Homo sapiens: one gene and its partners. The protein of the gene in region 4 purifies or fractionates together with the protein of the main gene of each other region. This does not show direct contact. Each region holds a gene or a part of one and is shown on either strand. Other genes may lie near its edges.

The links. Proteins that work in one complex are often made in the same cells at the same time.
Region 1: the proteins of LIPH (region 4) and GDF11 purify together in Homo sapiens (affinity purification with mass spectrometry; 3 studies listed by BioGRID and IntAct, with this or other methods). This does not show direct contact.
Region 2: the proteins of LIPH (region 4) and DNAJC12 purify together in Homo sapiens (affinity purification with mass spectrometry; 3 studies listed by BioGRID and IntAct, with this or other methods). This does not show direct contact.
Region 3: the proteins of LIPH (region 4) and BRIP1 purify together in Homo sapiens (affinity purification with mass spectrometry; 3 studies listed by BioGRID and IntAct, with this or other methods). This does not show direct contact.

What each region holds. Positions count from the first base shown.
Region 1 is NC_000012.12:55,755,443-55,757,764, reverse strand, and holds the end of GDF11 (growth/differentiation factor 11 preproprotein), read right to left. Parts: 3' UTR 501-2,322; downstream 1-500. Other genes in the region: SARNP (SAP domain-containing ribonucleoprotein), read left to right, coding at 212-253. UniProt on the Homo sapiens protein: Secreted signal that acts globally to regulate anterior/posterior axial patterning during development. May play critical roles in patterning both mesodermal and neural tissues. It is required for proper vertebral patterning and orofacial development.
Region 2 is NC_000010.11:67,800,189-67,803,688, reverse strand, and holds part of DNAJC12 (dnaJ homolog subfamily C member 12), read left to right. Parts: intron 1-3,500. UniProt on the Homo sapiens protein: Probable co-chaperone that participates in the proper folding of biopterin-dependent aromatic amino acid hydroxylases, which include phenylalanine-4-hydroxylase (PAH), tyrosine 3-monooxygenase (TH) and peripheral and neuronal tryptophan hydroxylases (TPH1 and TPH2).
Region 3 is NC_000017.11:61,797,529-61,801,028, reverse strand, and holds part of BRIP1 (Fanconi anemia group J protein), read left to right. Parts: intron 1-1,729; coding exon 1,730-1,929; intron 1,930-3,500. UniProt on the Homo sapiens protein: DNA-dependent ATPase and 5'-3' DNA helicase required for the maintenance of chromosomal stability. Acts late in the Fanconi anemia pathway, after FANCD2 ubiquitination.
Region 4 is NC_000003.12:185,532,089-185,535,588, forward strand, and holds part of LIPH (lipase member H isoform 1 precursor), read right to left. Parts: intron 3,045-3,500; coding exon 2,677-3,044; intron 1,592-2,676; coding exon 1,483-1,591; intron 1-1,482.

The sequences.
Region 1 (2,322 bases), on a different chromosome or scaffold from region 4:
TCCTTACCCATTAAACTTTCCAGCTCCTACTGGATAACTGGAAGGATTGGAGAGATTCAGGAATGAAATCTCTAGCTACCAAGCTCAAGTCTGGGCCATCCTTCCTTCTCGGGCCTTGTGACAGTTCATGTGAGTTTGGATTAAAGCAGCCAGGAACCCAGGCAACTATTGTCTTCAGTCTAATTTTTTTCTTCTTGCTTCTTCTTTACAGGCAAAGAAGAGGAAAAGAGCAGAGCGCTTTGGGATTGCCTGATGAAAAGTTCCTGATACTTTCTGTTCTCCAGTGTTTTCCATTTCTCTCCTTCTTCTTGGTCACATATATGCCTAAATGCACAGTCATGTGCCTACGTCCTGCCTCGCAATGAGGGAGCATGTACCCCAGGTACATCCATGAACTGCGGCAGCAGTTTGACTTATTGCTGTTTCAGCTTTAAGGTTGTTGTGTTTTTGTTTTTGATTATGTTGCTTGTTAATAAAAAAAAATAGAAAAGAGAACAATGTGTTTTATTAGGTGCTCCTTTGATTTATTGGAGCTAGATTAGACCAGATAAGGGGAGCTTCAGGGGCAAATATTATAGAGAATTGGCCATAATACCTTTATCCCTTAGAAGAGAAGACAAGGAAAAGGACTGAGTTTACCCTTTAAGCCTGTTTATTCCCTTCTGTCATACTCACAAGCATTTTTTATCCTCTGTGAAGAGGTTAAGTTACCCACCCACCAAGTCTTTGCTCCAGCAGCTTGTAGTGACCCACTGAAATAAAACAGAACATGGGAGGTTTTAGGTGTTGCAAAGGATATAAATACAAGGGCAGTGATTAGTAGCCTTCTGTTATTAGCTAATAATGCAGACTTTTTCTTGGATAAAATGGAGTCCAGGGTCCCACATTAAAGGAAAAGGGCCCTGATTTCAAGGGTGATGTGATACGATACTATGTTGGTCAGTCAGTTCAGGAAGGGAGATGGGCTGGATATCCCTCAGAGACAGAAGAAATTTTGTATGCAGAATCAAAGCATGACAGAGGATGTCAGAGCTGTTACGCATTGTTAGCTAAATCATTGGGAACATAAGCAGTGGAACTGGAGGCTTCAAGTTCATGTAGATCTGAAACCTGCTTAATCTTTTTGGATATGTTATTGCAGAATTTCTCCTCTTAATCTTTATATAAGCTCGGTTTTTGTTTGAGCTATTTTTGGTAATAAGACTTAGGAGCCTGACACCTTACCTGAAGACTTTGGTACTATGATCAGGTCCCATGTTGCTGTGGTGTAATCCTTTATCCTTATTTCTACTAAAACCTGCCTGGTTTTGTGCTTAATGAAATGGTAATAGTTTGATCACCTTTCTAATGTCAAGATATCTCTTTATTTCTCCAAAGTCTCTGGTTGGTGAGGAAAGCAGGGACCTAAAGTTTAGATAATTTAGAAAAATTGTGCCTTGGAGAGCAGATCCAAAAACTGCTGCCCATTTGTTGTGAAGTTTGCCCCATTCTGAGACTTTGGAGAAGTGAACAAAAGGGAATGCTGGTTAAATTTTTGACACCTCTTCAACCAAATAAACCTTAAAATTGGAATGACCTTCCCTTTTCCCTCTTTTCTGTCTGCCTTCCTTTTCTTTACCTCAGGCTCTGATCTTGGGGCTAGCTTTTCCTCTCTCTACTCTGCCTTCATCTGAAAACAGAATAGATCTGATTTGTAACTTGAGAGATTATAGATTCACTAATGGTTTCTTCCTGAATATGGTTTTAAAAAGAGAAAAATACATGAGGGAATAGAGCAGATGCTGATTATGAAGTGGAACAGTGGATCTTTTGGAAGTTTTCTTCGTCTCTTTATCCTCTATAACCTTCCAGAAAGATATTCAGCCTTACTTGCCAGGATTCTCTTCTTGAAGCCTAATTATTCTCCTCACTCATCTTACTTCCCCTAGATCTTTGAACAGTGTTTTCCAATTTGTGAGGATTTTTTTTTTTTTCTTATTAACCTCTTTCATCCCATTTCAGCAGCTGTTCCTATGTTGGTCAGAAGTCTCTAACCTCCAAGCCAGATGAAGTCCTCCCCTTCCTATCTCATTATAGTCATTCTCCACATACTCTTTGAGCATGAATAGTTCAGGATGCCTTTTTCCCAATTCAGTTTTAAAATAGTAATTCCGTTTGGAGATGGAACAGACATTGAGGCTTGTAATTGTTTACCTGAGATCTTAGTACCCTTCCTTCCTCTCCCCGTTTCCCTACTATAGTTGATCCAGCATCCAGATGTGGTTAACTGATTCCAATTCCTGAAGCTGTGACATTCTCTGCATACCTGGAAGCTCTTAATGA
Region 2 (3,500 bases), on a different chromosome or scaffold from region 4:
GTTTCTGTCAGATTCAGACCAAGTCTGTGCACACCAAAATTAGGTGTAGTGTGGGTGGGAGACACTTCAGAGACTCAGGCATGATGCTGAGGCCTCTTGAGCCCCTCTCATAGGATTCTACGAAATTTTCCTTCTTTTTAAAAAAATAGTAATTTAGATACTGAATAAAAACAAAAGTAGTATAGACTTGCTGTTAAAAAATTCAAAGAATCATATATAGCCAGGTTGCCAACCTTCTCTGCTTCTGTTTCTTGAAGTAACCAAGGCTGACACTCAGGTGTGTTTCCTTCCACTATTCTCTATGCTAACACAGGTGTGTATATGTGCACTTATGAGAGCTTTAAAAGTAAAGAATGGGGTTATACTGTACACATTTCTCTGTGTTACGCAGTGGTTAAGAATGTGGGCTCAGCTTTTCACTGATGAGTTGTATGACCTTGGACAAGCTAGTTAACCCCTCTGCATCTATGTCTTCTTAGTTATATAATGGTCAAAATATTAGTGTCTACCTCATAAAATTTTTTTTTTTGAGGAGTAAATAACTTAATTGTCCAGGCGCAGTGGCTCACACCTGTAGTCCTAGCAATTAGGGAGGGTGAGGTGGGCGGATTGCTTGAGGCCGGGAGTTTGAGACCAGCCTGGGCAACATGGTGAAACCATCTCTAAAAAAAAATATGAAAATTAGCCAGGAGTGGTGGTGCGTGCCTGTAATCCCGTTACTTGAGCCCGGGTGTGTGTGTGGGGGGGGATGTTGAGGCTGCAGTGAGCTGCGATTGCACCACTGTACTCCAGCCTGGGTGACAGAATGAGATCCTGTCACACACACACACACACACACACACACACACACGCACAATAACTTAATATACGTAAAATATTTAGACCAATACCAGGCACATTGTAAACACTTTTTTTAGTGTTAACTTTTATTATTAAGAGACTTCTCTTTAAATCCTTACATTCAGAATGAATTCCTGCTTTTTAACAGCTGATAACATTCCACAGTGTAGATATATGTTATGTCAAAGTCAAACAAAAATATAGATTCGAATCTCTATGTAAAACATTTTACTTGGGAAAATATATAAAAACTACATTGCAATTCAAGGCATACACACAGATGGGATGGTCTTTGGTGTGTCTGAAGAACAAATAAAATGTTGGGGGTTTTATTAGAAAGAGAAATGTTACATATTGTTATGAAAGAAAACTCATTGGCACTAGCAAAGTTCTGGGAGCTAGCAAGCTGTAATTGGTGAGTGATGGCAATAGGTAAAACTAGCCTTAGAGGCAAGGCAGGTCATTTCGGCAGCTGGCTTGTGATAGAATTCTTGGGTAGGCATTTGTGTCCTGAGTGCTTTTCTTTTCCTCTCCCTGGTTCTCGGCTCTAATTTACTTGGGTAATAACAGATAATGCCAATTCATATAATCAATTTTCACATATAATTTACTCAGAACAAATTGTGATGCCAGTTTTGATGTCTTCATATTGTGATATGTATGCTATTGTTTAAGAATGAAGTGGAGCCAGCTGCAGTGGCTTGGGCCTGTACTCCTAGAACTTTGGGAGGCTGAGATGGGAGGATCGCTTGAGTCCAGGAGTTCGAGACCAGCTTGAGCAACATAGCAAGAGCCCTGTCTCCACAAAATTAAAAAACCATTAGCTAGGTATGCTGGCGTGCGCCTGTAGTTCCAGCTACTTGGGAGGCTGAGGCAGAAGGATTACTTGAGCCTGGGAGTTTGAAGCTGCAGTGAGCTATGATCCTGCCACTGCACTCCAGCCTGGGTGATAGAGCAAGACCCTGTGTCTCCGTGTCAAAAAAAAAAAAAAAAAAAAAAAAAAAAAAAAAAAGAATGAAGTGGAGGGGATGGGAATCATTGTTCTTTTTTTTTTTTTTGAAACAGAGTTTTGCTCTTGTTGCCCAGGCTGGAGTGCAGTGGCACTGTCTCGGCTCACTGCAACCTCCACCTCCTGGGTTCAAGAGATTCTCCTGCCTCAGCCTCCCAAGTAGCTGGGATTACAGGCACCCGCCACCACACCTGGCTAATTTTCATATTTTTAGTAGAGATGGGGTTTCACCATGTTGCCCAGGCTGGTTTAGAACTCCTGACCTCAGGTGATCTGCCCACTTTGGCCTCCCAAAGTGCTAAGATTACAGACATGAGCCATTGCATCCAACTGGGAATCATTGTTCTAAAAAGCTGTTGTTGGAGAATTATGAAATTCTGCCAAAGGTTGCATTTACAAGTATTTTCTTTATGCTGTTTAAAAGATTATTGGCTTTTCTGACTAGTGCCTTAAAGCTGGAGTTGGATATATCAAAGTGCTGTTGCATGATTATTTATGATTTCATTTTACTGCAGCGTAAATTTTTATAATGTCAGCATTTAAGAAATATTATTCCTGTCAACTTTACCAAGCCCTGAGTGGCTTCTTATATATTACTTTTCAGCATATTTGCTAATTTCCTCAAGCAGTGCTAGATATTCACTTTGGAATTTGCCTTTTGATGTCTCTTCTGTGATGAGCAGCCACCAAATAGCCCCCACCACATTCTAATTCTTTATTGCAAAAAGTAAAATATGGAGCACTGCATCTGAAAACCACTGTGCGAGACAATCTCATTTTTACTTTCTTTCTGCTTAAATATGCAATAAATATGTCTTCTGATAAATACAGTTCTAAAATAAAATAGTTTTGTGTAACATCTTGGAGTAAAAAAGAGAAAGAAATTTTTTTTTTTTTTAGACAGAATCTTGCTTTGTTGCCCAGGCTGGAGTGCAGTGGCACCACCTCGGCTCACTGCAACCTCTGCCTCCCGGGTCAAGCTATTCTCCTGCCTCAGCCTGCCAAGTAGCTGGGATTACGGCACCTGCCATCATGCCCGGCTAATTTTTTGTGTTTTTAGTAGAGACGGAGTTTCACCATGTTGGCCAGGCTGGTCTCGAACTCCTGACCTCGTGATCTGCCCACCTCGGCCCACCAAAGCACTGGGATTACAGGCATGAGCCGCCGCGTCCCACCAAGAAAAATTTAAATGTACGCAATGATTTTGGTGTGCTGCCGTGTCCCTGGGCACTACCTTCCTAGGCATTGCCAACCTTGTGGCTCCAGCCACAAACATTGTGACTCTGCCAGAGGGCTTGCTCTGGCAATGGAGCCTACTTGGCAGCAAATCAGCAGGCAGTAAGTGTCAGGGAGTAAATGCCCTTTGGATGACAATAATGAGTGGAAGTGGGAAGCTAAATTCTCCAGGTCCTTCACCCCTCATGTGAGATAACTCTAAGAAGTTTTATATTATCTCCCAGGGTTCCCCAGTGGGATCATTTGCAGTTACCCATGGCAGTAACTTGTTTGATAATGTACCTTTTATAGCTTTGGTTCTCATTCTGCTAAGGTGCCACCTGGGATTACCTCCCAAATTAGCCACTTTGTTTCAATTTTTTTTTTTTTTTTTTTTTTTTTTGAGATAGAGTCTCTCTCTGTCACCCAGGCTGGA
Region 3 (3,500 bases), on a different chromosome or scaffold from region 4:
TGGGATTACAGCAGGATTTCTCTTTGCATTTATGAATATTCAAAAAGAATTATTTAGAAACATTTCTCTGAAAAAACTATGTTTTGAAGAACTTATGTGGGGGAATAAAATTATGCCTTGTGAGCTTTGAGAAGTGAACTTCAGATAATGGCATTTGTGTTTGTTTGCCTGGTTCTTTTTAGAGACATGCAATTGTTAACAGCATAAGACAAAAAGTGAATAATTTGGCATAGTCAATTGTTATTCCTGTCTTCAGATCTGACTGCACAATTCATCTCAGCTTTCTATTTCTTTAAGATCCAAATTAATAGGCATTATGTTTACTACCCCTTCTATCCTACCTCTTATTTGGTTATCTCTTAACTAGATCTCTTCCTTCTGAGACACTGTGCATATCAATGCCAGGTCAGTTTTCCAAATATTGCTTTTATTACATCCTTTTATCTGCCTAAAAATCTATTGCTTCCTTTGCTCATGAGATAAAGTTCATATTTCTTAAGCTTACACTCAAGATGCTCAATAGTCTGACCTGGATCTGCCCAATTTGAATCCTTCAAAAATTACCTCATACTCCCTTGAGGATACCTTGTTCTTTACTCTATCTTTGCTTTTGATGACACCTCTTTGGAATGCCCTGTCCACTCTTTGTCTGTCCAAATCCAAATCCTACTTATCTTTTAAACCCCAATATATTTCCTACTCTTCCATGGTTTTTTCTCAACTTTTCAGCTGTCTGTGTATTCTTACTTCCTCAAAATAACTCATTGACAATTGCTTTGTGACAGTTCCTTGTATTAGTCAGTACTCTTTCTATTGCAAGTGACACAAACCTACCCTAAAAAATGCTTAAGAAAAAATACTTGATTCTCTTTATTGTGATGGCTTTATTCTCAGGCAAGTTCTCACTCTTGCTTATGGAACAAAGATAACCATAAGCAGCTAGCTCACCTGGAGAAAAGAGCATGGCCACATATTAGTCCCTCCAAATTACTCTGGTTGGCCTACCGTGGATCACATGTCTGTTCCTGAACCTGAACCAGTCACTGTGACCACAGAAGGATGGAATACTCTATTTAACTGACAATCCTGGGCCTTACCCCCATTGTGAAAGTGGTGATGTCCTTTGATTCACAGGTTAATAGTCCTGCCAGCATCACATGGGAGTTGGAGAAGAACAATTCTCCAACTCCCATGTTGGAGAAGGATTGCAGGACAGATTAAAACAAAACATATATATTATGTTAGTATTTTAAGAGTCATTTTAATCTTGTATTGTTATTTTACTTTTAAAGGTTTTATGCTTTTAATCTTGTATTGTTATTTTACTTTTAAAGGTCTTATGCTTTTAATCTTATATTGTTATTTTATTTTTAAAGGTCTTATAATTAGTTTGTAAAATTATGTTGGAAACACTTTCATAGTGGGATTTTATACCTTTCTGTGTAGCCTGTGGTACCTTGATCCAGACTCACTGACATATTTTTGTTGCTGTCGATAGGTTTGCAAAGTATTTTAAGAGTAAAAAAATGGCAAACACAATAATGTAGAGCTGATATTTGGTTGGCCATAGTGCTTCAGAAGTTTTATTTAAGACCTAGAATCTCTGTTGCTTATGTAATTGCATTTGCAATATTGGCCTATAGTGTGAATTTTAAAATGAAATATCTTGCCTGCTGTTGTTAAATCTATTTTGCCAAATGTTTTACAAGAAAATTCTTTTATCTTATAGATGGATTTAAATCTGAAAGAACAGGTTGTCATTTTAGATGAAGCTCATAACATCGAGGACTGTGCTCGGGAATCAGCAAGTTACAGTGTAACAGAAGTTCAGCTTCGGTTTGCTCGGGATGAACTAGATAGTATGGTCAACAATAATATAAGGAAGAAAGATCATGAACCCCTACGAGCTGTGTGCTGTAGCCTCATTAAGTAAGAAGATTTGTCTATTAGTGTATTTGTGCTGCCTTTATATGAAAAATATGTTTGATTATGCCAGAGTATTTAAAGTTAGTAAACTTTGGTTAACTAGGCTTCTTGGGAAATGAATTGTTCCTTGCCAGTTAAGCTTTAAAAACAAGGCTAGTCCAACCTTTTGTCTTGTTCACAAGAATATAATGAACATAAGTGATTTTTAAAAATGAATAATTGTGAATCTTATTCCTAATTTGGCAGGATAACATAATAGCCCCGAAGGATGTGTCTAGGATATTGAACCAGAAACTAAACGTGCTTTTAATTAATATATTTTAAAATTCTGGATCATGGCTTTAATTTATTGCTTTATTCTCCAATTTAAATAGGATTCTAGTTTCATGGGTTTTAATTAATCAAGATTTCAGTACTCTAAAATAATATATTTAGTACTAGCTTTATGACAATTTACACTAATTTTTCTTTTATTAGACATTAAGTTGTTGATCTAGAATCTTGTTACCATAGAAAAAAACTTCCCAACTCTGAATCCCATTTCATTTATTGTAGCATTTTTCTGTTTCCTTCACATTTACACTTTAAAAAAATTTGAATGTTACACAGTCACATGGTTTGAAGACAAAATGTATACAAATTTGTATAGTAAAAACCTCCTTCCAGTTCCATCCCTGATCTGTTTAATGTCTGTGTTCTCCTAAACAAGTTTATCATTCAATGCATATTACTCATTTATGAACCAATATTAGATATATTTTCTTGTCCCTCACTATTTTCCAAATGATGGCATAGTATACATACATTTTTCTGCAACTTGCTTTTTTCAATTCCCAGTGTATTTTGGAGACCTTTCCATGTTAAGACCTAGAAAGCTTTCTCAGTTTAAAAAAAAAATAGATATCTAGAATTCCATTAGATAGATATGCAATAGTTTATTTAACCAGCCTCTGATTAATAGAGGAGGTTGTTTCTAGTTTTTTGCTCTTAAACTGCTATAATGAATAACTTTGAACATACATAATTTCATTTGTATGCAAATATATCTATAGGAATCTTTTTAGAAGTGGAATTGTTGGGTGAAAGCATAGACATATTTGTAATTTCAATAGATATAGCTAACATTTACACAATAGGTGGATGACAGGGGGGCTAATGTATGCTTCTACCAGCAATGTATAAGAGTATGGAAATTGTTTTCTTCTAGCCTGCTAGGTGAAAAGTGGTATCCCAATGTAGTTTTAATATTCATTTTCCTTAATATGCATGAAATTAAGCATCTTTAAAGGCCATTTATATTTCCTTTTGTGTCAACTGCCTGTTGACATCTCTGTCCTTTTTTTGTTCTTATTGTGGTTCTTTTTCTTAATGATTTATAGAACCCCATTCATATATTAGGGAATTAAAATCTTTGCCTGCAATAAGAGTTGTAAATACTTTCCACCCCATTTTGCCATTTGTGTCTTTTCTGGTGGTGTTTTGCCATGCAGATTTTTGTGGTTTTTATTTTACAGCATAACTTGTTGAAAGAGTTGTCTGTAGTTGCTAATTCTATTTTCTCACTTGACATTCTT
Region 4 (3,500 bases):
TGAGAATTTGATGAAAATTCTGGACCCCTCCCCAGGACAGACACCCAACATTTTGCATGCAACTTCACGGCCTCTTACTTCCATACCCGAGATCAACATAAACTCTTGAAGGAAGTGCTGTCCAACAGAAATACAACATGAGGCCGGGCACAGTGGCTCATACCTGTAATCCCAGCACTTTGGGAGGCTGAAGTGAGAGGATTGCTTGAGCCCAGGAGTTCAAGACCAGCCTGGGCAACATGGTAAGACTCCATCTCTACAAAAAAATTAAAAATTAAGCAGGTGTGGTGGCACACACCTGTAGTCCCAGCTACTTGAGAGGCTGAGTGGAGGACTGCTTGTGCCTGGGGGGGCGTTGAGGCTGCAGTGAGCTGCATGCCAGCCTGGGCAACACAGCGAGACCCTGTCAAAAAAAAAAAGGCTATGTGCAGTGGCTCATGCCTGTAATCCCAGCACTTTGGGAGGCCGAGATGGGTGGATCACCTGAGGTCAGGAGTTCGAGACCAGCCTGGCCAACATGGCGAAACAATGTCTCTACTAAAAATACAAAAATTAGCCAAGAGTGGTGGCGCATGCCTGTAATCCCAGCTCCTGAGGAGGCTGAGGCAGGAGAATCGCTTGAACCCGGGAGGTGGAGGTTGCAGTGACCCGAGATTGCACCACTGCACTCCAGCCTGGGTGACAGAGTGAGACTCTTTCTCAAAAATAAATAAATAATAAAATAAAATAAAATTTAAATTAAAAATAAAATTAAAAACTTGTGGCCCTAAAAGTTTACCTCCTAAATGTAGTTTTAATCATTTACCTCTCCCCTTTTTCCATCCACTTCTACCTTTTCAGTTTCCATAGATTTAAAATAGCCATCTAGGTATGAGGATGGATTCTGGGAAAGGAGAAATGGGAGAGGCTTTGAGACTCTGAAAGAGAGAGCCGCTGTGGAAAGCTACTAAGCCCTAGGCAGGAGATTCCAGCAAAGGAGTCTTTGTTTGGGATCTGACCTACTGCATTTCTGAAGGTTTTCATTCAGTGTTGGCCCGAAAGCTGATATTTAGAGAATAAGCCCCAGCCATCAAAATTCCCATCTCGTTTTCTTATGAGACTCCAGCTGTGCCTGGGGACTGAAGCGTATTAGGTTTATAGTTCAGGGTCTCCTGGATTAAATAAAAGGAAGAGGACTAACTGTTTGCGGCACACAGATTTGAATGGGACATAGCTGTTTTTCCAGCCATAATAGAAATAAAGTCACTACTCATCTTTTCTATAGTATACACAATTTACAAAATGCTTTACTTATGTTTTATTACATAATAGCCTGAGGTCAATATTATTTTGATCTTCCTTTTGCATGCAATGACCCACACTCAGAGAGGTTAGGTAATTGGAGCTGGCTTTGAACCCAAGGAGTTGGATTGGCCTACATAATACTCCCCCAGTGAACACCCTGCCCAGGCTACCAACCCATGCCCATTCACAGGCACTTACCTGTAATTCTCCCCAGCCATCCATCGTACATCTCTCCAACAAACCCAGATATGTGGGCTCCTAGACTTACTCCGATCATGTAAATGTCATCAAGAGAAGCTCCTTCTGCCTGGAATTTCAAGAGGTCCATCATTGTAAATTGTAAGGGGCCAAGGAATTAACATTTGTAGAAATTTCCTGGCTGTTGACTTTGGAGAAGTAATTCTAAGCACCTTACATCTATTATCTCATTTAAAAGTCACAACATCCATGCAAAGTAAATACTATTCTTTTGATTATGCAGATGAGGAAACTGAGGCCCTAAGCTGAAGTCATCTGCCCCAGATCAGGCAGCTGGGGAGAGAGCAGAGCAGGATTCAAAATAGTCTGTCTGCTGGGCCCAGTGGCCCACGCTTGTAATCCCAGCCCCGTGGGAGGCCGAGGCGGGCAGATCACCTGAGGTCGGGAGTTCGAGGCCAGCCTGACCAACATGGAGAAACCCCGTCTTTACTAAAAATACAAAATTAGCCGGGCGCAGTGGCTCACGCCTGTAATCCCAGCACTTTGGAAGGCCAAGGCAGGTGGATCACGAGGTCAGGAGATCAAGACCATCCTGGCCAACATGGTGAAACCCCGTCTCTACTAAAAATACAAAAATTAGCTGGGCATGGTGGCGTGTACCTGTAGTCCCAGCTACTCGGGGGGCTGAGGCAAGAGAATCGCTTGAACCCGGTAGGCAAAGGTTGCGGTGAGCTGAAATCACACCACTGCACTCCAGCCTGGTGACAGAACGAGATTCCGTCTCAAAAAAAAAAAAAGAAGTTGAGGAAGCTCTAGGCATTTAAACCAAGAAATCCTAGACAGAACCTCTCCTACCTGTAAGACACCTTTATTGTGAGCTAGAAAAAAATGCCCCTTCCTCAAGACACTTTGTCATCATCTGGTGGAAATTTATCATAATAAATATATAAATCTATAATGTCACAATGACAAGGGTGCTCCCTCAGATGGGTGCCCTGTGCAGTGCACAGCCTAACAAACATACCTATGGACATTTTGCACAGCCCCTCATCCCACCTTCCCTGGGGCTTATTCACATTTGCAAAATGTTGCAATATAGGCCTCCTGCTCACTGTAGCTATCTCTTGGCTTTAAGCCCTCAGATAATGGGCCAGTTTCAACTTAGCTCTGAATCATCTAAGAGAATTCTCTTACCAACATCTGGTCAATAAATTCCTTCAAGACCATGGCTACTTTTCTGGTCTTACTAGAGGCATGGGTATATATTAAAGTTGTAGCTCCTCGATTCCAATCAACAACAACTACGTTCATGTCTTCAACAGAGAGCAAACCCTTTACTAAGTCATCCATCCAAACAGGAGGGGAGCCTGTTGGCCTGAATCCATGGACAATGAAGGTGGTTTTCTTGGTCACATTCAAGTTCCCAAAAGCTGAGGAGTTGATGGTTTGTGCGCAGGTCAGGTTTTTCCTTGTGTAGAGCATCAGCCTCACATTTAGTCCCGTACCAACCACTGCACTGTGAAAGCTCAGCCTGGTGAATGAAGGACATGTTTCTTCTGCGTCTGAAAATAAAAATTAGATGGCATCACGACAGGTCTTTCCTTAGCTGGGCATCAAGCAAGAGTGCTGTTCTATATTTGTAGGAGTTCTTCTTATGTTCCTGATAGGACCTGGCTAAGGGCTGGATCCAGTTGAATGAAGTTGCAAAATCATATATACATACTTTGAGACAGGGTTTCACTCTCACCCAAGCTGGAGTGCAGTGGCGCAATATCAGCTCACTATAACTTCCACCTCCCAGGCTCAAGCAATTCTCCCTCCTCAGCCTCCTTGAGTAGCTGGGACTACAGGTGCATGCCATCATGCCCGCTAATTTGTGTATTTTTTGATAGAGATGGGTTTTCACCATGTTGGCCAGGCTGATCTCAAACTCTTTTGACCTCAAGTGATCCACTCACCTTGGCCTCCCAAAGTGGTAGGATTACAGGCCTGAGCCCACCACACCTGGCTGCCAAATC